Linked DNA regions of Homo sapiens: all the other regions are reported to be linked to region 1. The links are microRNA targets in miRTarBase. Many come from high-throughput screens and were not tested one by one. Region 1 holds a microRNA gene; each other region holds the end of a gene's coding sequence. Distances are between the middles of the regions.

Region 1 (7,878 bases):
CTCCCAAAGGGCTCCCACCAGCCGGGATACGGAGGCTCCTGGAAGTGTGTGGGTCTGGGGTCTGCTCCTCACTCCATGGCACCTCCCTCTCCCCTTCTGGAGCTCTGGTGGGAAAGCAGGAGGGGAAGGAGTCCAGAAGTCCGACCACTCTGTGTGGCCCCTCCATGGGTGGCATCATGGCCAACCCCAATCCCGAATGATCTGGTTGGTGGGTGTTGAAAGGTACCCATGCAGAAATACTGGAGAAGAACGTGGGATGAGGACTGGACAAGCAGGGAGCAGAGAGGTGATCTCCCAGAACATCTGAGCCTTGGACTATGGGAGATGCTAGGGTCTTAGGGATGAGGAAATGGGGTACCTTTGGCCTCTGAATCCAGGGATGGGGTCCCAGCCTCTCGCTGCTCTCCAGAGTCCACAGACACACTCCGGTCCCTCTTCACCTTGCCCTTGAGCGAGCTGAAAGGGGGCACCCCTGCCTGGGGGTTCTTCAGACTTGAGTTGCTAGGCGAGATCTGGTTGGCCTTGGCCCCATGGTTCCCCGCCCCCACGCCCTTCGAGCCCACGTTGCAGGTGGGTCCTTGGTTCACATTCTGGTGCTGAGATTGGGCCCCGCCATTCCCTGTCTTGCCATGATTGGTCAATTTATTTTCTGGGTGCATTGGCTTGGCTGGGGCAGGGGGGCAATGACCGCGGGGGGACAGCGGCGGGCTCCCTGGAGCTTCTCTCCTCCTGGGGTGGGGTAACCTGGGAGGAGGTGGGAGAAATGTGAAAAGTTAACCTTGCTAGGGGCTAGGCATGCCTGCAACTTAATTACCCCATCCTGCCTCCCCTAACAATGGGGGAGGGTGGGGGGAAGGGGTGGTATCTCAAGACCACCACCAGCTATTCTCTACCTCCCTCCATGGCTTCCTCAGACAAGGGCTGAAGCCCTCATCCACCTTGGGGAGTGGAGATGGGGAAACCCTCCACCCCCTAGCCTCCACAATTTGAATGGAAACCAGGGCCTAGAGTTGGCAGAATTCACCCACCTCAGCCCCAAAACACCCATCAGCCTGCAAGCTTCTGTGGCAACCCTGTCCTCTGTATCAGACTTAAGCATCCTCTCTTCTAAGATCTGCTGTCTTCAGACTCCTTCCAAGGTCTCAAACCTCAACTCCCATATGTCCCAACACCAGCAGAGAAGGGCCACAGGACCTGGGGTCACTGCACATGCCCGGGTCTCATTCCCCAGGGACAGTGGGAAAACGCACACCAGGGAGTGCTACCCACTGGTCCAGACAGCTGGAGGGGAAGGCCTGAGGAGGGGGGCTTGGCAGGCCAGGCCGGCAGGCAGAAGCAGGAGGAAAGGGGGAGGGGAGCGGTGTGTCAAGCAGATGGGGAGTGTAGCTTGAAGCCAAGGATTCCTGCAGCCTAGGCTGCGGGCCCTTTAAGCTCCAGCCCGCTCCCCCCGCCGCCTCCCCCTCCCCGGAGACCTATTAATAGCCGCTGGAAAGATCACATCACGGGAGAGGATATTTATCCCCCCTCATTCCACACCAGCTCAGATTTATTTCAGCTCTGCTGTCCTGCTGCTGCCGCCTGGCCCTGTCTGCCGGCTTCTCCGGGGAGGGGGGAGGGAGGCAGGCACCGCCCCCTACTCCAGCTCCCACCTCCAGCTAGACTGAGGCCAGAGGCGGCCTTCGGACCCCACAGTAGGGTGGGAGGGGGTCTGCTCAAACCATTTTAAGGAGGGAAGAACTAGAAGGGACCAGAAGCCGCAAGCATAGCTGGCTGCCAGTCCCCTCTGCCCCCCACCCAGGCCCAGGCACTAAGGCTGGCTGCGCCTCCTGCCTCGGGCCAGGCCTTCCCATGCTAACCCCCCTTTAGCCCACTGGTGGCCTGGGAGCCAGGTGCCCAGGGCGGCTCCTCTCCTGGCCAGCACAGCTTGGGCCCCATCACCACTGGGCCCTTCCCTTCCCGCACTCCACACACACACATCCCACCCGCCACGACACCCACACACCTTGTCTTGTTAGCCAGGATCCTCATGGCTCCCACACACAGTGGGGCTACGGCCCCTGTGCGTGCCCAGGGCCCAGCCAGGTACTCGGTACTGGAGCACGGACTGCAGCAACAAGCCCCAAAGAGAAAACTCGTGACTTGGGGAGGGGGTGTCAGAGGGGGAGGGGAGAAGGGAGGACCCAACAGCCCTGGGACTAGGGAGCTGGATAGGGTGGGGTGGCACTGGAAAAAGAGGATTACGAGATGGGGTCTCGATCCTGGAGGCCAGCCCTGTCCCCATCCCTCCCGCACCTTGCCCTCAGGGGGCTTGCAGTCTCCAGCAAGCCTCCGCCCCGACGGGCGGCAGAGACAGAATTCACTAAAAGGCTAGGTAGCAAAGGTGCCGTGTGGGGCGGCTGTGAGGTCTCCCCTGGCCCCCTGAGGGATTCCTGCTCCCAGACGCGCCCCTCACCCAGGGTGGGGTACCCCTCGTGCCCCACCCCCAGAGCGCTCCAGCCGTGGAGGGGGCCCGGGGTTGGGGCCACGCCCCGCCCCGTCCCCAGCTCGAGGCCTAGCCCGTGCCCATCCCAGCAGGCCCGGGCGGGCAGCGAGAGGCCTGGCGGGGCCCCGGGGCTGCAGCTGGGCTCTTCTGGAGACCAGTAACGCTGGCTCGGATTCCTCCCCGACCGCAAGAATGCAGGAGCCTCCCCTCCCCCCGCCCTGCACCCCCACCCCGCCCCCTTCGGCAGAGCCCGGGCGGAGAGGCAGAGCGAGCGAGCGACAGCCAGCGAGGCAGCGAGCGGGAGGCGGACAGGACTGCAGCGTGCTTCTCCAGGCCCCGCGCGCGGACAGACACACGGACAAGTCCCGCCAGGGGCTGGGCGCGCGCCAGCCGGCAAGAGCTTGGCGAGCCCCGGGTGCTGCCAGCAGAGGCTCAGAGACCCACAGACACCCGAACTCTGACTCACACACACTCACAGCTCACACGTGGACAGGGAGACAAGACACGCACGGAGCCCAGGAAGCTAGAGGCGCGCCGAGGCCAGGGAAGCGCCGCCGGAGCGGGAGGCGCGGAGACAGCCTGGGGCACGCGCAGACACCGGGGCTGCCCGAGGGCTGAGTGGGAGCGCCGGACCCATTGAACAGATGAAAAGACTGAGGCCGGCCACAAGAGAGCCGAAGAAAGTTGAGCCTGGTAGTCACAAAGAAACACGCACAGGGCCATAGATACAGCAACAGACTTACACAAACACAGAGGCCTCACCCAACCGCCCCCAGCCCTGGCTCCCCCCTCGCCTCCCCTACCCGCCCTCCAGCAGCCCTCCAGCAGCCGATCCCGGTCAAAGGGGAGGAGTCTTGGGCCCAGGAGCTTCGTCCCGGTGACAGGCCCGGCCAGACACCGGTGCACACTCCTGATGCTCCCTGCGGGGCTGCTGGAGGCTGGGCGGGGACCTGGGGGTGAGGGGGCCCCACCTGCCACCCTGCGGGAGTCTAACCCCAACTTAACCCTAGGGCACATTGGCCTTCGCCACTCCAGCCGTGTCTCTGGGGAGGAAGGCTCCTGGGGGAAGGTTCCAAAGTCCAGGACCTGCCTGGGAAGCAGCCCGCCACCCCCAGCTTCTCCATCACAACCAGGGAAGAGCAGAGGCAGAGGCTGGAGTCACTGAGATACCAGGGCTCTGAGCAGGCTCCTGGCTGGCATGCATCTCAGGCTCTCCCTTCACCAGCTCGCTGATTCTCAAAAGGATCGACCCCATTTCAACGAGGAAACTGAGGTCTGGGAAAAGGAAGTGGCGTGACCTTGAGTCACATATCCAGTATGTGGCAGTGTGGGGACGGACCCTCATTCCAGACACTGCAGTGACCCCACCTCCCCACGCCAGCCATGACTGCTCCTCTGAGCCTGCATCAGATAGTTGGGCTTCCCACATTCCAGCCACAGTGCCCAGGTCCCCCATAAGGGGGGAGGGGCAGGGCAAGGGCCACTCACTACCTATGTTCACAGCCTCAAAAATTGAGAACCTGTAAGAATTTGGGAAGGGGCTATTAGAAAATCAGTCCTCTCCAGTGGCCGTTCAGGCCTAGGCTCCTCCCCAGAAGACTCTTCCAGTCACCCTCCCCTCCGGGACTCCACCCCCTCTCTCCCACCCCGCCGCAGGGCGAGCTGAGTCAAGCGTGGATGAGTCAGGACTTTCCCATCTCACACCTCCCCCCTTTGCCCCTCAAGAGTCTGCCCCAGCTCCCGAAGACCCCTCCTCCTCCACACACTCACAGTCTCCGAAGACACCTGGAAGGCCTGGTGATGGGAAGCCAAGAGGGCTGATCCCAGCCCAATGCAATTTTAAAGCACCCAGTGAAGGGGGCTTGCTAGTACCAGGCCAGGGGCCCTTGAGGTACGAGAAAGCAAAGGGATGGGGCTCTGGGAACACGTCACCGTGCCTCCCTCTTAGGGGGTTAGGTGGGGAGGGGTAGCAAGCTCACAAACAGGGAGCAGGTGCGAGTCACCTGAGTGGAAGGCCAGGCGCATACCAGGAGAATGAATCGGAGGAGCGGAAGAGGCGGCTTGACAAAGGGCCTGAGATATCCATCCGCTCCCCCACCCCGAGTGACGCGAGGGTAGGAGCTAGCAGCCTAAGGGTTGCTAAGGGTTAAAGTGGACTTGATCCTAGCTGGGGGAGGGAGCTGAGGAAGGCTCAGATGCCCAGAGCCTCCAGGTATGACACACCGGCTCTGCTCCACACACAACTACCACAGGTAGGGCAGGCGTTCACACATCCAGTGGCAACCTGCCTGCTCCTAGCTGCCCCCACGTTGGGAGCCTCTGCTTGGCTCACCAGCTGGCCCAGCAGTGTCACTGCCTAGCTCAAAACCACCCCAAAGAGGCAGTGAGGAAATGTTTTGGAGGGTTCATGCTCCTGAGCTGCCAGGGCCCCCTGTGATGACGTGAAAGCCCAGGACCCTGCTGGGGACAACAGGGCGAACGAGATCCTTGGCCTCTGGCTCAGGGAGATACAGCGCCCGAGACGACAGGGTCCCAAATCCCCTTTCTCCTGGGTGTCAGGACCCCTCAGTCCTCAGAAGCTCTCTCCACCACTCAGGTCACTTCCTCTTCCTGAGGTGGTGACTCAGCGGGCAGGGAGGTCAAGGATTCGTAGCCCAGCAGGAAATCTGCTCAAGGACCAAGGTGCTGCTCTGGGACCCTCGATGTGGGGACTTCCAGGCTTAGGGGGCCTTCCCATGGCCCTGGTTCCTAGTAGCTCTCCACACTTCCCCCGACTCTGTGCCAAAGGAGACCATGCAAATCAGCCATTTTTGCTTGGGAGGTTTTCCCTGGGAGTTTCCAGCCCCACCCCACCTGCAGCCCTAGGGTAATGTCAGACAACCCCAGCTCCACAGGACCAGGGAAACTCCTGGTCCCAGACCTTTCTAGTCTGGGATTGTTGAACAGGGTACTGGGGGGTGATCGGCGGTTTTGCCCATTCTGGCCCACTGTCCCTTCTGGAGCCTGCACAGACAAGTGGCATTGCTTGGACAGGCCTGAGGTCACCTCACTTCTCTTGGCTCCTACAGTCATTGTCAGTGTGGCCGGGCCTTGGGAAGCAATCATGGCCTGGCAGTGGGGTGCCCCCAAAGACAGCTACCCAATCCCCAGCTGCTCCCTCCCACAGGGGGAGGGGTAGAGAGGGGGTGGGGGGCACAAGGAAACAAGACAGGGCAGGAAGCCCAGGCAGGCGGCGGGCACTCTGGGCCAGGCACAAACAACCAACACAGGAAACCACAGCCCACCCCCGCCCACCCCACCCGCCCAAGGCTCTGGGAGAGAGGAGTGCCAAAAGCTTGGTACCCCAACAGAGGCAAGGGCCAGGGGTTAGCCCAGGGCAAGGGAGGAGCAAGAAGCTCTCCAGTCCTCTCTCTGCCCCAGACCCTACCTGGGGAGGGTAGAGGGAGCCAGGCTGGCAGGGATGGTGCTGCCTCTTTAAATCCACCGAAATCCTGAGCTAGGCCCAACCTAGCTCTGGTTTCACAGGAAGGAAAGGAGCTCAGGAGCCAGTAGGGCAGGCAGTGGTGGCTGGAATTAGCCCCACCGGCCCAAATATATCTGGTCTCTGCCCGCCGCCCCACTGGTACTTCCTGTCCCCTGGCACCTGCACCAGGGTGGGGGTAGGAGATGATCCAGGTGCCACTCTCTACCCTATGGAGACTCCCATCTCAGGAGGTGGTGTGGTGCTGGGTTCACATGGGTAGAAGGTAACTTCCCAAGCCTGGGTTCCCAGAACAGGCAGAGATGGGCAAGGCAGCTCCCTGTGGGCCCTCACCTGGCCTCAGTCCTCCAAGGGGTTAATCTGTCCCCTATTTAGGGGGGTAGGGGTGGCCGAGGAACCTCCTCCAAACTGCCTGGCTGCTGGGAACAATGGGGCCATTGTGGGAGGATGGAGTGCAGCAGACTGCTGGCACAGCCAAGCGCACCACGGTGGGACCTCACCCAGCGCCCGCCCGCCTGCCTGCCTGCTCTGCTCTCTCCCCAGGTACAGCCAGAGGCAGAGGCATCCTCCTGGCCCCTCACCTCCCCTGATGGCTCACACTCTTGGCAGCAGCAGCACCTGGGGGCCCCACGAGCTCTGCCCACATTGACATCCAGACTGTCATGACCCTCCAGGATGCAGGGGCACGTGGGCCAGGCCGGGAGGGGTGGGGGTGATGAGACAGGATGTATGCCTGTGACCTCTGCAGGGAGACAGAAGGCCACACGGGGTTTCTGGTGTCAGTCCTGGCACCCTCAGGCAAGAAAGGCTTAGGGGATTGTGAGAGCAGTGACAGGCAGGGTCCCCTGTCCCCAGGCCTCCTCTCCCACACCCATTCAGTAAAGCTGCTCCCAGAGGAGGTCTGGTGCCTGGTGGCCTCGCCCTCTGAGGTTGGGGCCCTGGCAGGCAGTATGATGCAGTGGAATAAGAACTGAGTTTGAGGGCCGGGCGCGGTGGCACACGCCTGTAATCCCAGCACTTTAGGAGGTCAAGGCAGGTGGATCACGAGGTCAGGAGTTCAAGACCAGCCTGGCCATGATGGTGAAACCCTGTCTCTACTACAAACACAAAAATTATCCAGACATGGTGGTGGGCGCCTGTAATCCTAGCTACTCAGGAGGCTGAGGCAGAGAATTGCTTGAACCCAGGAGGCGGAGGTTGCAGTGAGCTGAGACGCACCACTGCACTCCAGCCTGGGCAACAGAGCGAGACTGTCTCAAAAAAAAAAACCAAGTTTGTAGTCAGACAGTGTCAATCACACCCTGCCCCTTCTCATCTATGGGGCCTTGTCCTTCCCTTTATCCCTCTGAGCCTCAGCTTCCTCATCTGCAAAAGGAGAATAATTTTATAGAGTGAGGTAACAGTAGTGAAACTAACAGAATGCCTAAGACACACCAGCCCTTGACAAACCACTTCTGGCCTCAATTTCCTTATCTCTACCTCCTGCCATGGCACCCAAATATGTGGGCATTTGGTAAAGGCAGGCACTGTCCAGATATTTTCCCTGTGAGTGTCCAAGAGAACAGGGCCTGTGGGCATCATATTAGTGGTACCAAGTAAAAAGACTTGGCTCCTCCCCTGCCCTCCTCTCAGAGGTCAGCTCCCTCCGCTGGCACACTCCTGGGCATCCTGGGCTCACCGACACACTCAAATCCAGAGCATGAACCCAGAGAGGGGCTGGGTGGCTGTCCACTCTCTTAGCCTCAGGACCATGTCTCAAAAGTCCAGGAGGCAAGTGAAGGGGGATTTCCCTTCAAGAGAGCCAGCCTCCCCTCTGCCAGGTCCCCTTCTCCCTGCCTGCCCCTTGGCAGTCACCCTGTAGTACTTGGGCTGGGAGAAAGCTTAAGCCTACTCTCTTGCCATGGATCTCAAAGGA
Region 2 (7,878 bases), not on the chromosome of region 1:
AGGCTGAGGCGGGAGAATCTCTTGAACCCAGGAGGCAGAGATTGCAGTGAGCCGAGACCACGCCATTGCACTCCAGCCTGGGTGACAGAGTGAGGCTCCGTCTCACAAAAAAAAAAAAAAATCGATTCAGGCAAGGAATTGTCGCTGGATGGCAAAAGCATTAGCTGAAAGGTTGTTGGGGACAGGATATTCACAAAGTCCCCAAATATTACCCCAAATTACTTGTGAATCAGGAAGGGAAACTGCGTCTTTACAGGGGAGAGATCTGGCAGCAGCCACCTGGATCACGTGATCAAACTGAGCGTCCTCAACAGTGGGGCAGCCTGACCCTGCCAGCTGCCTGATGAGGGGCTGGGGGTGAGTGTGGTCAGAGGAGGAAAGGATACAGTAGCAGCTGCCCTGGATGCTTCCAAAAATATTCTTGCCTGATTGCCTATGGAGAATGGCTAGTTGGGAGAGGCAAAGATGGCCTCCTGCTCCCTCAGAAGCCTGGCTGAGTGGCATTGCCAGTCCTCCAGCCGGGCCGTGGAGAACACGTGTGTGCTGAGGAGCCGGCCAGTGCTGGACGTGAGTGCCAAGAGGGAAGGGACTGTGTCTTCCAGTCTCAGGGTTGCCAGCACCTGGGACACAAGGGGGCACTCAGTGATGAGCAGGGTGTCGTCTGCAGCAAAGTCAGGCGCTGTCTGGAAGACATGGGCTGGAGCTCAGGAGAGAGGGCCGGGATGAGACATAGACATGGCAGTGAGGCACAGAAATAGAAAGCAAGCTGGATGAGCTCCCCGAGGAGTGATACAGAGGGAAGAGAAGGGGCTCAGGGACAGAGCCCTGGGGCACCAACATTGAGGGGTGGGGTGTGTGTGAAGAACCAGCAAGAGAGCCTGAGTAGGAGCAAGTGGTGGAAACAGCGGGAGAGCAAAGGCAGAAGAGGGTGAGGAATGAGGACTGCCGGCCATTCAGTGGGGCCCTGAAGGTGTATGCAGGCCGCTCCAGCTGGGCCCTGGAGGAGGACAGGGCAGTTGCTGTGTGTCTCTCATCTCTCCTGAAGGCTTTTCAGGGCTGGGAGGCTCAAGGCTGGCCACCTCTGCTGCATCTACTCCTGGGAGTACCAGGCCCGGGCAGATCTATTGGAGCTGGTGAGGCTCACATGGGACACCAGCTGATCCATTGCCAGGGAACCTCCCCACCCCAAGGCAAATGCTGCTGTCCTCTGAGGCCGCTCTTCCTCCCGTGGGCCCTTGGGAAACGACACCAAAAGCACCTCATCCCAGCTGGGCCCTTCACTCATGCTGCTATCTCCTGATGTCATTGTAGTCACACCATGGCCGCAGGACTCAGATACTGTCCCGAGGCCCCTCCCTGAGGGGCAGGTGGTGGGTCTCAGGGCCCTTCACCGGGCAGGGGGCAGTGGATGACTCGGTGCTACCTCTCAGGGCGGACAATTGGCTCAGAGGGGCGCAGCACCTGCAGTAAACATTCTGACCCCTGTTAAAGGATCTCAGCATTGGGGGGGCTGCAGCCTGTGGCTGCTCCATCTTCATGCAGAATCCCCAGTGTCCTCTAACGATCCCCCCACTTCCTGTCTCCCATCCCTGCAGTGTTTCCTCTCTCTGGTGCTTTCCCTAACCCAAGCCTCAGAAAACGCTTTCCCTGTGTGATCTTGACGCCTCCAGCCCTCTCCTCCACTACCTGCGAGGTGGCCCTGATCTGACACATGCATGGCCCCTGTAGTGGACAGCTGCCATTTGCGGCCACCATTGAGGATATCCATTCATCCAGCCCTCCCCCAGAGCCTTCTGTCCCTTGCATAGCCCATGTGTGTCCAGGGAAGTGGCCCCATGCCTAGCTCCAGGGAGCCAGCCCTGACGGAGAATTACCCCCTACCCCAGCCAAAATGATTGGACGCACAATCCAGTTCTGACCAACGAGAAGAGTGTTTATTTGCTGGGGGCATCTGAGACAGCAGAGGTGGTACACAGAGAAGATGCTGCTCTGGCAGTGAGGGAGGGATTCCGTGGAAGCTGCAGGCAGCCATCTTTTCATCCTCGGAGGTGGTGGCCTGGGATGTAGCAGATACCAACGCAGAGGGAGGCAGAAGACACTGGGTGAAATTGCTCACCTGCTGCCAATGCCAATACCACTGGACTTTTCACTTTCATAAGCCAAGAAATTTCCGTTAACTGATTAAACAAATTGCCTTTATTGTTAAACCAATGATTGGATATCAGAAACAGCCTAGCTAATATAGCTCCTTTTGGATAAAAGTAGAAGCCTCACATTCACCTTTAATGTTATTTCACTTTTTCCAAAATCAATTTCCTGGCACCACACAAACAAGAACACTGGTAAATGTATCACCTGAACTGCAGGCCACACATGCTCACGAGTGTGTCCCTGCCGTAGGTGGCTTTGAAGCCATATACATGGCTCTCCAGCTCTCGTGGGGGGCCAGGGGCTTCTGTGTGCTCTTCAAAGCCTTCACCCATTGGGCCTCTGTCCATCTTTCCAGCCTGGGGACCCAATATTTGCCCCACAAGGCCCAGGCAGGAGGGCCTCCAGCACGCGCAGCCCTGACCACACTGTGAGCAGCTCACTTGGCAAGGGTGAAGGGCCGGAGTGGCGTCCTCCTGATGTGGCTTCCTTCCAGCCTCTACCACCCCTGGGGGCCTCCTCCAAGGAGCAGGTGGTTAGATGTCCTCTTGTGCCCACACACACGGCAGGGTGGAGGAGGATGAACCGGAACCCAGTCCATGCTTCTGCCCCCACCCTGGCACCCCAAGGTTTCTTCTCAGGCAACAAGGAGCACACAAAGTGAGCCCCTGTACACAGGTGGCTGGGATATGTTCATCTTCCACAGGGAGGCCAGTGCTGGGGATGAGGACAAAGGCCTACGCCCAGTCCCAGCTCTGACACTGCCTTGCTGAGTCACCCATCAGCCCTAACGCTTCCTGGACGAGACAAGCAGATAGGGTGCCCCAGAGAGGAGCTGTGTCACTAAGGGCCAGGACACCCCATCTCTGGGTCACACTTGGCCACGGCTTCATTTTTGGCTTCAGTTTGTTTACTGAACAGAAGGGAGAGGGGCCCTGTGAGACAGAGGACACTGACTCAGGTCGGTGAGTGGCCCTCACTGTATAGAGTCCATGGCTGGGGACCAAGTGGCACTGAGACTCGCCCAAAGTCACATCACAGAGCTGGGGTGCCTTGCTGACTCCCTGGCCCCAATCTGCTTTTCCATTTGTCGAACGCACACTGGCACACTGGCTGCAGCAGCTGCGGGGGTCGGGGGGTTCCAGGGCTGGCTGTCACTTGGCCTCCTGCAGAGGTAAGCTGAGGGCTATGTTGGACCCGCCAGAAGTCAGGTGACAGCTGCTTTCCCTTTCAGGATCGGGAGGGAGTCACCTGAGGGTATATTCTCAGTGGGCTAAACATGACATGCGAGAGCCCAGCTCTCCAAGCGGCCCCTTCCTCCTTCTCACACCAAGGCACTTTCAGAAGCCGCTGGATTCCGACTGGGGCTGTGCCACTTCATCGCCGGTGCCTCTGCTGTGCCGGCTCTCCTCTTCTGAGGGTGTGGAAGCAAACCCAGGTCAAGCTGTGAGGAGTGCCTAGCACCTGGCCAGAGCCAGGTACATGCCAGCTATGATGATGATGAGCCCAACTGCAACAGGAGAACACACTTAGTGCGACATGCAGCGGTAGCCTGGCGTTGGGCACCTCCCCATGCTCCGAGAATTCTATTTGGAGAAGCCCTTCTCCATTGTCTCAGTCACTTCAGGGTGCAGGAAGCGGCTGGCCAACCGTTCGATGTCGTCCAGCGTCAGGCGACTCAGGGACCTCTCGTAATCCTGGGGAGAGAAGGGCAGGAAGATTCAGGGGCTGCCAGTGGTGGGGGGGCATACACTGCAACAGAGGTAGGGGCTGGGAGCAACTGGGCCTGAAGAGGATGCCCAGGGTTACCCTTCTCACCCTCTGTAGCTGTTCCAGGACCCTGCTGGCATCTGCCGCACTGAAGTGGCGGGCCAAGACTTTGGAGATCAGCTGCCAGACCTGCGGGGGTGGGGAGTCGGCCAGCCTCTGGGCCTCGCCTTCTTCTAGTAGCACCTTCTCCAGGGGTTTGACCACTAGGTTGAGCTTGGAGTTGGGCCCGATGCTATAATCCGAGAGTCGTTTCCCATCTGCCAAAGACAGATCGATGGGTTCCTCCTCCTCCACCGCCGTGGGGGTGGCCCGGGGCGCGAGGCCGCCTCGGGCGGCGGGAGCGGAGCGCTGCGGCATCCGGCTGTGAGGCATGCGGCCGCCTCCCTTGGGGTCATGTGGCGCTTGGCGCCCGCACCCCGACCCGACACACGGCTGCTGGCCTCGGCCCGCGCACCCCGGTCCCGCTTCCTGCGGGGCTCCCCGGGCGTCTCCTCTCCCTGGGTACCTGCCAGGGCCTTGCCCTTGAACAGCAGCCGCTGCTGGCGCACTGGGACGTTCAGCTTCTCGGAGACCAGCTGCTTCAGCGTGGACACCAGCTCGTCCTCTGGCACCTGGCCGCGCGGAGGGTGGGAGGCAAGGGTTGAGCCCGCGGCCCCCAGACGGCGAAGCCCACGCGTCCGCCCCCGAGGGCAGCTCTCCCGGCTCCCGGCCCTCGGCCCGGCCGCCCCGTGCCCGCCCTCGGCCCTGCCGGTCCCCCTGCCAGGAGCGGGCGAGAGAGCGCGCCGGACCCGGCGGCCCGGCCCGGGGACCCTACCTGCAGGCTGCACTCGCGGCCCTGCAGCGCCTTCACCGTCAGCTGCATGGCGGTCGCGACGGCGTCCACTCGGGCCGGCGCGCACCCCAACCACCCCCCGCCGCGCGCCGCCGCCCCGGGCGCGCGCTGGAACCGCCCGCCGCCGCCGGAAGCAGCGAGAGGGGCGCGCCCGCCGCCCGCGCTTCCCGGCCCCGCCCTCCTGCCCCGTCCGCGCCCCGGCCCCGCCCCCCGGCCCAATTGCGCCCCGGGAGGAGTCCCCCCGGGGTCCCGCCTAGCATGCGCGCATCGACCGCCCTGGCCGGCGGACCCCTCCCAAAGCAACGACGCGGGGGAGTTGGGAGCAGGAACCAGTCGGGCCAGGTTGGCGTCATCTGGGAGCTGGGACATGGAGAAGGGAGGGCCAGAAGGTACGCTCGCCCCCGCGGACTGCCTGGCCCACCTCACGCGCCAGGACTGCTGGCGGCGCCTGGCCCTGCATACCCACAGACGGCCCGCCCCCGCTCCCTGTCTGGTGGCTTCCTACCTCCTCCTTTCTGGTCTGGCTGCGAAACGCTCCACTGAGCTTGAGAGGGGGCAGGGGGGCTACGCCTCTGCCCTCATCCTCCCACCTCTCCCAGAGTGGGGACACCCCCGGGGAGGGCTGATAGGGAAAGCCTATGCAGGGGTCACCGTGTCACCCAAGCTGGCCCTCCACCCTGGTCCACACTTACCCAGCACACTCTTTCTACCCCCACGCCCAGGCCCCAAAGGGCAAAGAGTAGAAGGGACCCAAGCTTGCTTCTCTCTTTTATTGAAATATATTTTCTGGGCAGCGCCCACCTACCTAACTCAGCATGGCCTCTTTGGCACTGAAAGCTGGAGAATAAAAAATCAGTAAAAAAAATAAGCCTGGATTTTTCTGAGTGCATAGTGCATGAGAACTTTGGTGGAGTGTGGGGGCTGGGGCTGATGAAAGCTTGACCCAGAGGCCTCAGGGAACTGGGAACAGGCTGCTGTAGATGAAGTGGCCAATGACCAAGGCCAGCATCTCGGAGGTGCCGCTCAGCGCCACAATGAAGGGGGCCTGGGAGGCATAGTCAGCTTGAAGGCGGCGGAGGGATAGCTGCAGCATGGCCAAGGCCAGCAGGCTGTTCTGCACCCCTACCTCAATGCTGACCGTCCGCCGCTGGGCCACTGGCAGCTTCAGACACGTGGCTAGGCAGTAGCCCACCAACAGGCCAACCAGGGGCACCGTGATACCCACCAGTACGATGGGTAGCCGGATGCCTGCCAGGATGAAGACCCCCATGCGATAGGCCAGGAAGAGGCCGCCCAGGAGGAGCACAAAGCTGAAGGGCTTGACGACCTGCAGCAGCAGCTGGGAGAACTTGGGGAGCTTGGACTTGATCAGCACGCCCACGGCTATGGGGATGGCAATGAACAGCAGGGTCCCCAGGATCTTGGAGATGGGCACGTGGAGCGTCTCATGGATGCTGAGCAGGCGGCTGTAGATGGCCGAAGACAGAGGCAAGAAGCCAGTGGCAGCCACCGTAGAGAGGAAAGTCATGGAGATGGCCAGGGTGACGTCCCCTCCAAGAAGGAGGCTGAAGAGGTAGCTCCCCCCGCCGCCAGGCGACGAGCAGGTGATGATGAGGCCCAGAGCCAGGGCCTTGGGCAGCATGAAGACCTTGGCCATGAGGAAAGCGTACAAGGGCATGACCAGAAACTGGCCCAGGAGGCCCAGCAGCATGGGCTGGGGGCTCTGCATGAGCCCCTTCAGAACCTCGAGTTCCACTTTGCACCCAAACGAACACTTGTTGACAAAGATAAGAGGCAGGAGCAGGTAGAGGATTGGGTTTTCCGAGAAGTGGGCCAGGTCGGCGCTGAGGGTGGCAGGCGTGTCTTCAGCAGGTGAGACCTTGATGCAGAAGTCTCTCCGCTCCTCAATCAGTGTGGGCGGGGCCTCATGGGCGTCCACGAGCTGGATGTGGAGTGGGGCCAGCCCAGCCAGGCCTGAGTGGATGCTCACCACAAAGCCACCCCCGCCTCCCCAGGTTATAGCACTCACGTTCTTGATGGTCAGCACCTCTGTGTCCAGGGAGGTGACCCTGAGCATGGGGCCAGGCGCCGTCCTGTTGGCCTGGCCTGGGTACTGGCTGGAGATCACGATGATGCCCTCACTGTCCTCAGGAAACTCAAACTCCATCACAGAGCCATCTCCAATGCTCAAGTAGCGGCCCCCAGTCGGTGGCACGGTGTGACCCCCAGCAGTGCTGAGGCTGGTGCTGGCTGTCCCTTGGGCCCCCCATGGCAGGCTGATGAGCAGCAGGGCAGCTCTGAGCATGCTTAAGGGACCTGTGCCACCACCCTCGCCCCCCAGACCAGGCCACTGCTGAGAGCTGCCCTTGTCCTGCATTAACACCATGGCTCTTCCTGGAGGACGGATGGCGTGCCCAGGCCCTCTGCGGCTTAGGAGAACATCCCCACTGGTGCTGTTGGGTTGTCCTGAGAAGGGTTCATGGGTGGGTCCCAGTCCTGTGCTGTCTTCCTTGATGGCAGGGCTGTCCCTGAGGAGGTAAGGGACACAGAGAGGCAGCTGGTGAGGGTCACTTACCCTGGAGGCCTTGGTCCAGCCATGTGTCTTACCTCTGAAGAGGGAGGCAGTCAAGAACCCAGGAGCATGGGGATCTGGAAGCCCACTGCTAAGAGTAAAACTCAGCAGGGACCCTTGCCCCACACTCAGGAATGGAGAGGCAATGCCTAGTGATGGCCCTTGAGTGCCATTCAGCTGTGGCTCCCTGGCCCACTCTACCTGCCCCTACAGTGACTCGATGAAGGTCCTGCTGGGAAGCAGGTCCTCCCTCCCCAGGGAAGTTGCCAGAAGGGGCGGCAGGAGTGGATCAGACAGAGCCACATGTCTACTGGGGGGGTTTCTCCTCCTTTTGTCAGAGCTCCCACTGGGCTGAGACTTTGACCTCCCAGAGCCACTGCGTTACATCTGAGAGGCTGTGCTCAGAGTGCAGGGCTCCTTCCCATGCCCACATGCGCCCCTACCAGAGCCTCAAACTCAGTGGAATTATGAGTGTTTCTAGCGGCCAGCAACACCCCCTTCCACTTCTCAATCTGGGCAGCGACCACCGTAGTGTCACATCACCTGCTAGAACTGG
Region 3 (5,000 bases), 750 kb from region 1:
AGTGAAAGGAGATGCTACTGGGTGCGGGGGGTGACGGAGGGATGGCTGGGATGGGGCAGTCTCTGAAGCCCCTGCCACTCCCACCCCCAGGATCGATTTGTCCTGCATTCCAGCCCAGGAGATGGGAAGCAGATGGTGCTGGTGGGGAGAGCGGGGAGGTAACCGAGGAACAAGAAGACCTTCTCTCCAAACAACCAGCCCCCTGGAGAAAAATGGGGGGGTACAGGAGGGGTGGGTCACAGGGAGAGCTTGCAGGGGATGGGGCGGGGCAGTAGCTTCGAAATAGAAGATGAAAGGATAAAGCTCTCAGCTCTTCTCCGTCCCCAGGGACCTAACACGGCAGGCGTGACACTGCTGGTTTTCTTCTCCAAACAGCCACAGGAGGGGACGTGGCAGGAACAGGACAGCAGGAGTGGGTGATAGGGGAACTGGAATCTGGGGCAGGAGGCACCCGTACCCCTAGGAGGGCACCAGCCGGCACAGGGCTTTCCCTCTCTGCTGTGTGCACCCCCAGCCCTCTCAGGCCTTACTTTCTTAAAGGCCTCCCTCCTGTGTCTGTGGACGCCCACCCCTCCCTCTGCGATGCTGTCGTCAAAGTCCATGGTCTTCTCACTTGCATGGAAGATGGTTCCGGGGCAGCCTGTGAGCAGTCTCCCTCAGGGCTCCTGCTCCTCTGGAACCCTGGAACCTGGACATGGGGTGGGGGGTCCCTTCCCCTCACTATCCCTCTGTGCCATCCCCTCCAGCTCCACGCCTTCCCCGCCCCCACTGCCATGGAGCAGGGCAGTGATGGGATGCAAACCAGTTTGTTTTAAACACTTTATTTATAAAAAAGTACATTTTTAATCCTCAGTACATTTTCAACCCATCATTTTTTTTTAATACAAGTAAAAGGGGGTGATGCAAACACCCCCCAGGTCAGAACCAGGAGGATCTGCTGGGCTGTCCCTGGACCAAAGGCGGAAAGGGCGACAAGACGCCGAAGCAAGGTAGCGCATCACGCTGGGAGGGGAGGGTGGCAGCTTCTCCTGGATTCTTTTCATTTATACAAAAAAGGAAAACCAATTTTTTCGACCAAGAATCCCATTCCTCACAGCAGGGGTCAGAAGAGCAGCAGCACCGAGTGGGACAGGGGCTCCTCCTGGCCTCACAAGCTGGGCAGTGTTGGCAGCAGTGGCAGCAGCAGAGGGGCCTGCCTCCTGGCATCCCCGGTACTGGGCAGTGTGTGAAGCCTCCCTGTGGGTGTGGGGACCTGGGGCACACCCACCTGCCCCTCACTAGGAGAGGGTTTCTGTTGGCAGTCAGGCTTTGGGGGTCTCTGTCTGGACTCCTGAGGCCTGGGAGCACTACCCTCCTCCCAGAAGAGGGGACATCCGTGTCTGCTTGGCTCAGCAGAGCTGCCCACACCCACCTAACACAATTCCCAATTTCTCTGCTCTGAGGAAGGCAGAAAAGTTATTGCACCAGTGACTTGGGCAAGTGGGGGTTGGCTGGCAGAGGAAGCGCATGCCCAGGAAACAGGGCCCCTATAAGGCTCTCTTGCAGCCCGGGCACTGGGAAATTCGTTTCTCCTTAATGGCTTTCAGCAGGATCAGACCATTCCCTCTGCCACATCTGTGCTGAGTGGCCATCTGGCTGTGCATGCATGCGTGTGTACATGCGTGTACACATGCCTGCGCGTGGGTGTGTTGGAGGTGTGAGTGTGTCCACTGTGGGCACACGTACTGGGTCTGAGGTGGTCGCACTTGCAGGCCTGTGTTCACCTACTCTGTGCTGCTGCTTTTCAGACCCTTCTGATAAAAGGGGACTCGGCTGGTTCTATTACACATTAGAACAATATCAAAATCTGTAAGGAAACAGGGGCATGGGTGTGGGGTGGGGGGCAAGGACAGGGAGGGCAACAAGAGGCAGGATGACAACTGGGGAGGCCTTGGCACAATTCATACCAAGTTTATTTCATTTCCAGCAAAGCAGAAGCTCAGCTCATGCTGTGGGCATGAAGGAGAAGCAAAATGTCCTCATCTCTCTGCTGGGCTAGACCTCCCTTTTGCCAGCTGGCTGTGTCTGTGGGCCCAGCAGTAGTGCCCACCTTCCCACAAACTTGGGGCACAGAAAACCTCACATCCCTAGGTCCAAGTGCTGACTCCTGCCTCATGCCCACCCTCAGCCCAGGCTGGCAGCTGCTCGGTGGGTATGCTGAGGCTGGGCCCCTGGCAAGTCAGGAGCCTCCTACGTGGCCCATGCTACATGGACCCCAAAATTTGTGCTTTGCTTGTGGGGAGGGTGTGGAGGTGTCTTAAGGGGGAACTCAGTGCTTTGGCTGGGCTTGGGGCCTTCAAAGTCCAACACAGAATGGGGAATAGAGGGTGGCAGTGCAGGATAAAGGAGATGCAGGAGGAGACAGGGACAGGAAATGCCTCTATCAGGCAGGCCCCTGGGATTGCCTCCTGCCTGGGGGAAAAGGGGACCAAGCAGAGGGGCCAGAGTGTTGTAAGGTGGGATGGGGCAGTGATGTAATGTGGAAAAGGTCCCCTGTCCTGGGGGACACTAATACTGCTGGGAAAAGCAGCCCAGCTCCTCCACCTCCCTCTGCCCTGTGGCTGGAAAGACTCCACAATTTTCTCCCCTAACTTCACCCTATCCAGTACCCCAAATGTGTAGAGGGGAGAGCCGCACCAGGGCTGGCATGGCTTCAGACTTCTGCTACGTGGCTACTGGGCAGCCTGGGCTGGGGCCAGGGCAGTGAGGGCCAGACAACGACGACCCACCTGCTGGGCCCAGGGTTGCCAGGGCAGAAATGGAGCTGGCAGGGGGTTCAATAGCAGCACCAGGGAGGGGAGGGGAGGGGTTGGGGGGCTCCCTTAGGAAGCCTATGGCAGGGTGGGTCAGTGCCCGTGGGGCACAGAGTGGTCTGCCTCCCTCCTCCCCAACACTTGCCATCCTGCAGAGCCCCTGACACCCTGGGGTGAGTTAACTGGAATCCCAGTGGGCAGGCATGAAGGGCCGCGAAGCCTGCCTCTCCATCCCAGGGTCCTTCCCATGGGCATGCCTGTCTAGAGTGCCAGGGGATCTGGGAGCAGATGGAGGAACTGAGGCACTTTGAGCTGGGGGACTGAGAGGGCTGGGAGGGGTCTTCCTCCATTATATACATGGGAAGACCCAGTCTGGGGTGGCTGATAGGAACTCAATGTCCCATTCAAGAAGGGAATCTGCACTGAAAGGGAGGGCTTCTCCTAGGCCCTCCCCTCATCCCAGAATGAGGACCAGGGGTGGCTGAGCAGGAGGTGGCCTAGCGGCCCCACCCCCCTCACTTTCTGCCAGGCCCGAGGCTTTGACAATGGCCTTTGTGTGTGAGGCATTGTATGGACTCCTCAGTCCCTCGGACTGTGTTTGCAGAGCTTCTGCCATGTGGGCTTCCTTCCCCACTACCCTCCGTGTGGATGCTTCTTTACCTCTGACTCCTGCAGGTGGATCCCCCTGGGATCCCAGCCCTGACTAGCCAAAAGAACCAAGTGTTGCTAGATAAGGGAGAAATCAGAGAAACCTCCACGCTGTAAGAAGCAGTTTGGGGCAGGCCTGAGATCCTAGGGTGGAGGCACCGGGGACCCAGTCTCAGCTGTCTCTGGAAGCTTCTATAGGCAGACCCCATTCTCAGCTTAAAGGGGGAATGAGGTGGAAATAGACGGGTGGGCCTTGGGCAGTGTCTGGATGGGGCAGGGCATGGGACTCCAGGGGAAAGCAGGCAGAGAGGAGCAGTGTGTGCATGTGTGTGTGTGTGCACGTGTCAGCAGAGGCAGAGAGCAAGTGTGGGCTGGAGCCCACCTGGAGCCCCTAATGGAGGGGGCACATTGGGGATAAAGAGGGGACGCGTCAGAGCTAGGCCAACTCCACTCTCTGTGGGCCAATGAGGAAAAAAAATGTAAAACCACCCTCAGCAGGAAAACACTGCCCAAGGCCCCGCTTAACAAACAAGACTCCCTGGGAACTGGGGAGAAGCCGCACCCCTCCCCCTACCTCTTGGGCGCACCAGCTGTCTAGACCCAAGGTCCAAACTCCCAGCTGCATCAGATTTCACTGGTGGGTGTTGGGTTCCCTCTAGCCGGGAGGAGGAGCAGCATCTGGGGGTGTGGGGAGCTTTTCCCTCTTAGAGCCCCTTGAGCCCTCCACCCCCAGTGAAGAAACACAAACAAATTCCAGTGTAGGGGGGCGGGGGAGGCTGGCTCCCCAAACCCTGGAGGGATGCCCAGGTACACAAGACGAGAACAGGGCTCCCTACACAGAGGGCAGGCAGGTGGGGCCCGTAAAGGGAAGATACAGTAACACTAAAGCCACAGTCGAACACAACACCATGGGGAAGGGCGGAGGAGAGGGAGGAAATAAAACACAAAGCCAAGTCGTGGCTGCCCTGGGCTCCCCTGGCCCCCCAGGAGTTCGGGGCTGGCTTTGGGCAGCTGGGCAAGTCTCTGTTCAGCTCCTGGAGTGGGAGGTGGGGGGTGGGCAGGGGGCGTGCGGGGAGGGGCTGGGGAGGAGCGGTCACAGACAGAGGCTCTGGAAGGGGGGCTACACGTACCACTCCTTCTTGGAAATGAAAGACCCGTCGTTCTGAGAAACCATGTTCTCAGCCAAGTCCAGCTGCTCAGGGTCGTACTGGTAGCCCAGAGTCCGGTCCCCGTAGCCGTCCTGACGGGCCTCGGCCTCATCCACGGTGAAGTAGGGCCGCTTGGCGTCCTCGTCATATTTGGGGTGGGGGCCGCCCACCTTGCGCTCGCCCCCTCCACCGCCCTCCTCCTCCTCCTCCTCCTCCTCATAGCTGCTTCCACCCAGTGGGCCGGCCTTCTTCTCGTCGTCTGAGTCGTCGGGGTACTGCAGGTTCTGTGCCATTGGTGGGTGGTGCTGGGGGATGCCTGCCTTGCTGTAGCCGTTGCCATACACGTGCTTCTTGGTGCTGTAGTCACCCTTGAAGGTGTGCCGGCGCCGACGCAGGGCGACCACGATCCCGC
Region 4 (7,878 bases), not on the chromosome of region 1:
GCAGGGGGCGCTTCGGATGAGAAATTGATCTCACTGATATGCCGAGCAGTCAAAGCCACCTTCAACCCGGCCCAAGATAAGTGCGGCATACGGCTGGCATCTGTTCCAGGAAGTCAGACCGTGGTCGTCAAAGAAATCACTATTCACAGTGAGTGGAGGGCAAGGGGGCCTGGGCTGGGGCCTGCATGGGTGGGAATGGGGGGCATGCAGAAGCCACATTGGAGGGTGGGTCACAGTGGTGCCCCTTCAGTTCCCTAAGAACTGTCAAGCCACACCCCCTCCCAGGTCACCCGAGAGACACTCAGGAGACTGAGATACGGTGCGTCCCTCTCTTGGGGCGCAGTCCCCGTCCCCCACTGCCTCGCTCTGGGCTGGGCCATTGGGCATCGTCTCCCTCTCCCACAGCTAAGCTCCCTGCCAAGGATGTGTACGAGCGGCTGAAGGACAAATGGGATGAACTAAAGGAGGTAAGCGGCCCCCCAAGTGTGGGGACAGAGTGGCTCCGAAGCCCCTTGTGGGAGGTCTGGTTACTCCCCTCTCTCTGTGGGGAGGAACCCCGTCATGTGCCTGCATGTAGAAGAGGGCGGCGGCACGGACCCTAGCAGACTGCAAGCGGAGGGGCTCTACAGTGAAGCCGGGGGCTGAGGGAGAGAGGATGCCCCCAGCCTGTTCTCTGCCACTTCCCATGCAGGCAGGGGTCAGTGACATGAAGCTAGGGGACCAGGGGCCACCGGAGGAGGCCGAGGACCGCTTCAGCATGCCCCTCATCATCACCATCGTCTGCATGGCATCATTCCTGCTCCTCGTGGCGGCCCTCTATGGCTGCTGCCACCAGCGCCTCTCCCAGAGGAAGGACCAGGTAAGCAGCTGTTTGCAGCCACACAGGGGAAGCAGCCCAGGTCACCAGAGGAACCCTCCCCTCGTGATTCCCGAGTTGCAGAAGAGGAAAGGGAGCAGGCCCTGGACCCTTTCTAACAGGCAGAGGCCACCCCTGATAGGCAGCCGCCTCAGTCCACAGAGCATTACAGAGGCAGCGTGGCAGAGGACAGAGCGTGGGCTTTGGAGTCGGGAAGACTTATTTATTTTTTATTTTATTATTATTATTTTTTTCAGACAGGGTCTTGCTCTGTCACCCAGGCTGGTGTCACCCACTGCAACCTCAAGTGATTCTTGTGCCTCAGCCTCCCCAGTAGCTGGGATTACAGGTGCCCACCACCACGCCCGCCTAATTTTTGTATTTTTACTAGAGATGGGGTTTCGCCATGTTGGCCAGGCTAGTCTCGAACTCCTGACCTCAAGCAATCCGCCTGCCTCAGCCTCCCAAAGTGCTGGGATTACAGGTGTGAGTCACCACGCCTGGACTGGAGTCAGGGAGACTTGGTTAGTCCTGGCCCTGACCTTGAGGAAGTCAGTCAGATGAGCTCTTTGGGCATCAGGTTCCTCATCTGCACAGCAGGGATAACCTCCTTGCAGAGCTGGTCTGAGGATTCATTGATAGAAGCAGGCCTAGGTGTTCTGTCTAACCAAAAATTCTTCTGCCTACCTTACTAGAATTCTCGCCATGATGGTGCCACCCAGACCCTGTGGTTCTCACTCCTGCCTGCACACCGTGGGGAACTTTAGAAAAATTCCCTTGCCTGACTGCCTCCCACACCAATTCAAACAATCTCTGAGTCCATCAGTGTAGTTGTTAAAAGCTCCCCAGGTGATTCTAGCATACACTCAAGGTTGTGTTTGAGAGGGACAGAAAGCGCCTCTGCCAGATGGCTGCTGTCTGCCGCAGGGATGATTCTAGAGACACCGTACCCATCCTGCCCAGGCTTGAGGGCTCAGTCACCCAGCCCGAGAGAGGTCATTTTTTAATAGTGTTTTTCCCATTCATTATGATAGGTGAGGTAGGTGCCTGGAGAGGAGGTTTTGGGGGAAGGGATGAAGGGGAGGAGAGAGCTTAGAGGACTCTGGAGAACAAAGTCCATCTCCACTAACTTCACAGGTTCTGCCACCAGGGTGAGGGTGAGGGGCAAGTCTTTGTTCCCAACTAGTTCCGGGCAGGCTGAGAGCCAGAATGACCACCAGGAGCAGCCAGCCCCACAGGCGAGCAATGAGGGCCTGCTTTAGCTACAGTGGGGCTCCTGAGTGGGAGGGGTACGTACATGCGCTGTATTAAGCTCAGAGCCCTCTGAAACCCCCTTCTCACCGGTCACCTTCCCCACTCTAGCAGCGGCTAACAGAGGAGCTGCAGACAGTGGAGAATGGTTACCATGACAACCCAACACTGGAAGTGATGGAGACCTCTTCTGAGATGCAGGAGAAGAAGGTGGTCAGCCTCAACGGGGAGCTGGGGGACAGCTGGATCGTCCCTCTGGACAACCTGACCAAGGACGACCTGGATGAGGAGGAAGACACACACCTCTAGTCCGGTCTGCCGGTGGCCTCCAGCAGCACCACAGAGCTCCAGACCAACCACCCCAAGTGCCGTTTGGATGGGGAAGGGAAAGACTGGGGAGGGAGAGTGAACTCCGAGGGGTGTCCCCTCCCAATCCCCCCAGGGCCTTAATTTTTCCCTTTTCAACCTGAACAAATCACATTCTGTCCAGATTCCTCTTGTAAAATAACCCACTAGTGCCTGAGCTCAGTGCTGCTGGATGATGAGGGAGATCAAGAAAAAGCCACGTAAGGGACTTTATAGATGAACTAGTGGAATCCCTTCATTCTGCAGTGAGATTGCCGAGACCTGAAGAGGGTAAGTGACTTGCCCAAGGTCAGAGCCACTTGGTGACAGAGCCAGGATGAGAACAAAGATTCCATTTGCACCATGCCACACTGCTGTGTTCACATGTGCCTTCCGTCCAGAGCAGTCCCGGGCAGGGGTGAAACTCCAGCAGGTGGCTGGGCTGGAAAGGAGGGCAGGGCTACATCCTGGCTCGGTGGGATCTGACGACCTGAAAGTCCAGCTCCCAAGTTTTCCTTCTCCTACCCCAGCCTCGTGTACCCATCTTCCCACCCTCTATGTTCTTACCCCTCCCTACACTCAGTGTTTGTTCCCACTTACTCTGTCCTGGGGCCTCTGGGATTAGCACAGGTTATTCATAACCTTGAACCCCTTGTTCTGGATTCGGATTTTCTCACATTTGCTTCGTGAGATGGGGGCTTAACCCACACAGGTCTCCGTGCGTGAACCAGGTCTGCTTAGGGGACCTGCGTGCAGGTGAGGAGAGAAGGGGACACTCGAGTCCAGGCTGGTATCTCAGGGCAGCTGATGAGGGGTCAGCAGGAACACTGGCCCATTGCCCCTGGCACTCCTTGCAGAGGCCACCCACGATCTTCTTTGGGCTTCCATTTCCACCAGGGACTAAAATCTGCTGTAGCTAGTGAGAGCAGCGTGTTCCTTTTGTTGTTCACTGCTCAGCTGATGGGAGTGATTCCCTGAGACCCAGTATGAAAGAGCAGTGGCTGCAGGAGAGGCCTTCCCGGGGCCCCCCATCAGCGATGTGTCTTCAGAGACAATCCATTAAAGCAGCCAGGAAGGACAGGCTTTCCCCTGTATATCATAGGAAACTCAGGGACATTTCAAGTTGCTGAGAGTTTTGTTATAGTTGTTTTCTAACCCAGCCCTCCACTGCCAAAGGCCAAAAGCTCAGACAGTTGGCAGACGTCCAGTTAGCTCATCTCACTCACTCTGATTCTCCTGTGCCACAGGAAAAGAGGGCCTGGAAAGCGCAGTGCATGCTGGGTGCATGAAGGGCAGCCTGGGGGACAGACTGTTGTGGGAACGTCCCACTGTCCTGGCCTGGAGCTAGGCCTTGCTGTTCCTCTTCTCTGTGAGCCTAGTGGGGCTGCTGCGGTTCTCTTGCAGTTTCTGGTGGCATCTCAGGGGAACACAAAGCTATGTCTATTCCCCAATATAGGACTTTTATGGGCTCGGCAGTTAGCTGCCATGTAGAAGGCTCCTAAGCAGTGGGCATGGTGAGGTTTCATCTGATTGAGAAGGGGGAATCCTGTGTGGAATGTTGAACTTTCGCCATGGTCTCCATCGTTCTGGGCGTAAATTCCCTGGGATCAAGTAGGAAAATGGGCAGAACTGCTTAGGGGAATGAAATTGCCATTTTTCGGGTGAAACGCCACACCTCCAGGGTCTTAAGAGTCAGGCTCCGGCTGTAGTAGCTCTGATGAAATAGGCTATCCACTCGGGATGGCTTACTTTTTAAAAGGGTAGGGGGAGGGGCTGGGGAAGATCTGTCCTGCACCATCTGCCTAATTCCTTCCTCACAGTCTGTAGCCATCTGATATCCTAGGGGAAAAGGAAGGCCAGGGGTTCACATAGGGCCCCAGCGAGTTTCCCAGGAGTTAGAGGGATGCGAGGCTAACAAGTTCCAAAAACATCTGCCCCGATGCTCTAGTGTTTGGAGGTGGGCAGGATGGAGAACAGTGCCTGTTTGGGGGAAAACAGGAAATCTTGTTAGGCTTGAGTGAGGTGTTTGCTTCCTTCTTGCCCAGCGCTGGGTTCTCTCCACCCAGTAGGTTTTCTGTTGTGGTCCCGTGGGAGAGGCCAGACTGGATTATTCCTCCTTTGCTGATCCTGGGTCACACTTCACCAGCCAGGGCTTTTGACGGAGACAGCAAATAGGCCTCTGCAAATCAATCAAAGGCTGCAACCCTATGGCCTCTTGGAGACAGATGATGACTGGCAAGGACTAGAGAGCAGGAGTGCCTGGCCAGGTCGGTCCTGACTCTCCTGACTCTCCATCGCTCTGTCCAAGGAGAACCCGGAGAGGCTCTGGGCTGATTCAGAGGTTACTGCTTTATATTCGTCCAAACTGTGTTAGTCTAGGCTTAGGACAGCTTCAGAATCTGACACCTTGCCTTGCTCTTGCCACCAGGACACCTATGTCAACAGGCCAAACAGCCATGCATCTATAAAGGTCATCATCTTCTGCCACCTTTACTGGGTTCTAAATGCTCTCTGATAATTCAGAGAGCATTGGGTCTGGGAAGAGGTAAGAGGAACACTAGAAGCTCAGCATGACTTAAACAGGTTGTAGCAAAGACAGTTTATCATCAGCTCTTTCAGTGGTAAACTGTGGTTTCCCCAAGCTGCACAGGAGGCCAGAAACCACAAGTATGATGACTAGGAAGCCTACTGTCATGAGAGTGGGGAGACAGGCAGCAAAGCTTATGAAGGAGGTACAGAATATTCTTTGCGTTGTAAGACAGAATACGGGTTTAATCTAGTCTAGGCACCAGATTTTTTTCCCGCTTGATAAGGAAAGCTAGCAGAAAGTTTATTTAAACCACTTCTTGAGCTTTATCTTTTTTGACAATATACTGGAGAAACTTTGAAGAACAAGTTCAAACTGATACATATACACATATTTTTTTGATAATGTAAATACAGTGACCATGTTAACCTACCCTGCACTGCTTTAAGTGAACATACTTTGAAAAAGCATTATGTTAGCTGAGTGATGGCCAAGTTTTTTCTCTGGACAGGAATGTAAATGTCTTACTGGAAATGACAAGTTTTTGCTTGATTTTTTTTTTTAAACAAAAAATGAAATATAACAAGACAAACTTATGATAAAGTATTTGTCTTGTAGATCAGGTGTTTTGTTTTGTTTTTTTAATTTTAAAATGCAACCCTGCCCCCTCCCCAGCAAAGTCACAGCTCCATTTCAGTAAAGGTTGGAGTCAATATGCTCTGGTTGGCAGGCAACCCTGTAGTCATGGAGAAAGGTATTTCAAGATCTAGTCCAATCTTTTTCTAGAGAAAAAGATAATCTGAAGCTCACAAAGATGAAGTGACTTCCTCAAAATCACATGGTTCAGGACAGAAACAAGATTAAAACCTGGATCCACAGACTGTGCGCCTCAGAAGGAATAATCGGTAAATTAAGAATTGCTACTCGAAGGTGCCAGAATGACACAAAGGACAGAATTCCTTTCCCAGTTGTTACCCTAGCAAGGCTAGGGAGGGCATGAACACAAACATAAGAACTGGTCTTCTACACTTTCTCTGAATCATTTAGGTTTAAGATGTAAGTGAACAATTCTTTCTTTCTGCCAAGAAACAAAGTTTTGGATGAGCTTTTATATATGGAACTTACTCCAACAGGACTGAGGGACCAAGGAAACATGATGGGGGAGGCAGAGAGGGCAAGAGTAAAACTGTAGCATAGCTTTTGTCACGGTCACTAGCTGATCCCTCAGGTCTGCTGCAAACACAGCATGGAGGACACAGATGACTCTTTGGTGTTGGTCTTTTTGTCTGCAGTGAATGTTCAACAGTTTGCCCAGGAACTGGGGGATCATATATGTCTTAGTGGACAGGGGTCTGAAGTACACTGGAATTTACTGAGAAACTTGTTTGTAAAAACTATAGTTAATAATTATTGCATTTTCTTACAAAAATATATTTTGGAAAATTGTATACTGTCAATTAAAGTGTTTTTGTGTAAACTGGTTCAAGCTCTAGTAGTTTCCTCGGACTTCTTAAAGCCTTCACTTGTGTATGAGGCTCATCGCCAAAGTGCCTGAGAATGTCGGCTCACACCCGTAGCACAGGAGCCTCCGTGCTGAGTTACACTTGTCCAACTCTGCAGGCAAAGAAATTAGGCAAGAGAAGGAGAGAAACCGGAAGAAAAAAAAAGGGGGATCCTAAAGGTGGTTATGAGTCTTTATGTTACTCAAGCTATCCTAGTGACTCTAAAGAACCTCACTTTCCCCTAAGATGACGTTGTATGTTTCGCTGTCTTCCTTCCCTCTACTTCTGCCTCAGATACATTGTGAATCACCACTATCAGAAATCCCCAAGAGGGCTGCTGAACATTGATCAGGTATGAAAACACTGGCAAAGAGACTATATATATACATATATATGTGTGTGTGTGTGTGTGTGTGTGTGTGTGTATGTATATATATATATATATATATATATATATATATATATGTAAAAACAAAGCTCTGTTCTGGCCCTGTTTCTGCCATAAAAGGATCTGTTTACTGCCACAAGAGGCTTCTGCCTATCCCTCCTCCAGGTCTGCAGTGAAGATAGATAGCGGTTTAAGGAAGGAATCACTGGAGATGATTCTTTCTTCATCTCCTAGTGTGGTATTATCCACAGCTGCATGCTTCTTCATCGGAAGGGGTAAACTTCATCATTCCAAACTTGCAGAAGGGAAACTGTCAGGTAGAACTGGTCCATAATCTTAGTTGCTAGACAACAATCTTGTCTACTTGCCTAGCATCTTACCATTTACAAACCATTTTATAGGAAACCTATAGGTTTACAAACCTATCTTATAGGAATTGTCCCCACTAGGGAAATTAGATGCAGGAGTTAAGTATTCTCTTTGAGATTGATCACACAACCATTTAAATGGCAGCATGGGCCTTGATTCTCTTTTTGCTCTTTAGTCCTACACTCTTTTCTCAGTATCACGTTAATGCCAGAGTTCCAACAACAGCAAAATACATTTCTAGAATGCAACTACTGTTACAACATGATTTTCCTTCCATGAAAGTTGTTGTGAAAAGCAGTTAAACCCTGAAGAGAGGTCTAGAGTTGGGCCCGGGTAATTTTGAGGTTAGCTTCGAGAGGGTGCCAAGGATACAGAAAGGAGTCCAAGTACAAGGAACTCACACAGGACCCTGGCCATGGTCGAGGTGCACTGTTCTAAGAGTGACCCACAGCTTATTGTGGGCCACAAGTTAGACCTAAGATCCCATTCTCTTTCTGAGTAGGTCATTCACCCTGATCCCTGCCTGCCAACCAAGACACACGCTCAGTTGTCAATTTAAATGTGTTATGCTCATTTGTCACTCAGAACCTTCCCTATAAGCTCCCTCCCAAATCACAGATTTCTTCTGTACCACAAGGGA

Evidence for each region. Region 1 holds the annotated microRNA hsa-miR-4492 (GGGGCUGGGCGCGCGCC, at 2,854-2,870, shown strand). A microRNA usually pairs through its seed, bases 2 to 8, with sites in the 3' UTR of a target mRNA and lowers its output. Matches are read on the target gene's strand: a 7mer-m8 pairs with bases 2 to 8, a 7mer-A1 pairs with bases 2 to 7 and ends in A, and an 8mer does both.
Region 2: the mRNA of SLC10A3 is a reported target of hsa-miR-4492. Seed matches in the 3' UTR shown: 7mer-m8 at 5,669-5,675.
Region 3: the mRNA of NECTIN1 is a reported target of hsa-miR-4492. Seed matches in the 3' UTR shown: 7mer-m8 at 4,517-4,523, 7mer-m8 at 4,435-4,441, 8mer at 3,808-3,815, 7mer-m8 at 3,119-3,125, 8mer at 2,725-2,732, 7mer-m8 at 2,679-2,685 and 1 more.
Region 4: miRTarBase lists PODXL as a target of hsa-miR-4492. Seed matches in the 3' UTR shown: 7mer-m8 at 3,609-3,615.

Annotation. Positions count from the first base shown.
Region 1 is chr11:118,907,912-118,915,789 of GRCh38, forward strand. MIR4492 (microRNA 4492) reads left to right here and starts at 2,797; the gene lies at 2,797-2,876. It overlaps BCL9L (BCL9 like), which reads right to left. Exons shown (of 10, transcript NM_001378213.1): 3 at 2,003-2,104; 4 at 359-744. The coding sequence starts at 2,028. RefSeq lists enhancers at 1,350-1,891, 2,975-3,514, 3,782-4,981, 4,057-4,598, 4,599-5,140 and 3 more.
Region 2 is chrX:154,481,805-154,489,682 of GRCh38, forward strand. SLC10A3 (solute carrier family 10 member 3) reads right to left here. Exons shown (of 2, transcript NM_019848.5): 2 at 5,507-7,278. The coding sequence starts at 7,136. The coding sequence ends at 5,703. It overlaps UBL4A (ubiquitin like 4A), which reads right to left and starts at 4,811. Exons shown (of 4, transcript NM_014235.5): 1 at 4,733-4,811; 2 at 4,424-4,529; 3 at 3,967-4,175; 4 at 1,913-3,845. The coding sequence starts at 4,780. The coding sequence ends at 3,735. RefSeq lists enhancers at 187-246, 3,500-4,258, 4,259-5,017, 5,355-5,414 and silencers at 4,195-4,344, 4,835-5,094.
Region 3 is chr11:119,660,187-119,665,186 of GRCh38, forward strand. NECTIN1 (nectin cell adhesion molecule 1) reads right to left here. Exons shown (of 6, transcript NM_002855.5): 6 at 806-5,000. The coding sequence ends at 4,561. Among named protein-coding and RNA genes, the nearest start is that of NECTIN1-AS1, 47 kb to the right of the region's middle. RefSeq lists enhancers at 4,410-4,948, 4,949-5,000.
Region 4 is chr7:131,498,849-131,506,726 of GRCh38, reverse strand. PODXL (podocalyxin like) reads left to right here. Exons shown (of 9, transcript NM_001018111.3): 6 at 1-148; 7 at 406-467; 8 at 692-859; 9 at 2,219-6,456. The coding sequence ends at 2,416. Among named protein-coding and RNA genes, the nearest start is that of PODXL, 54 kb to the left of the region's middle. RefSeq lists an enhancer at 154-1,068.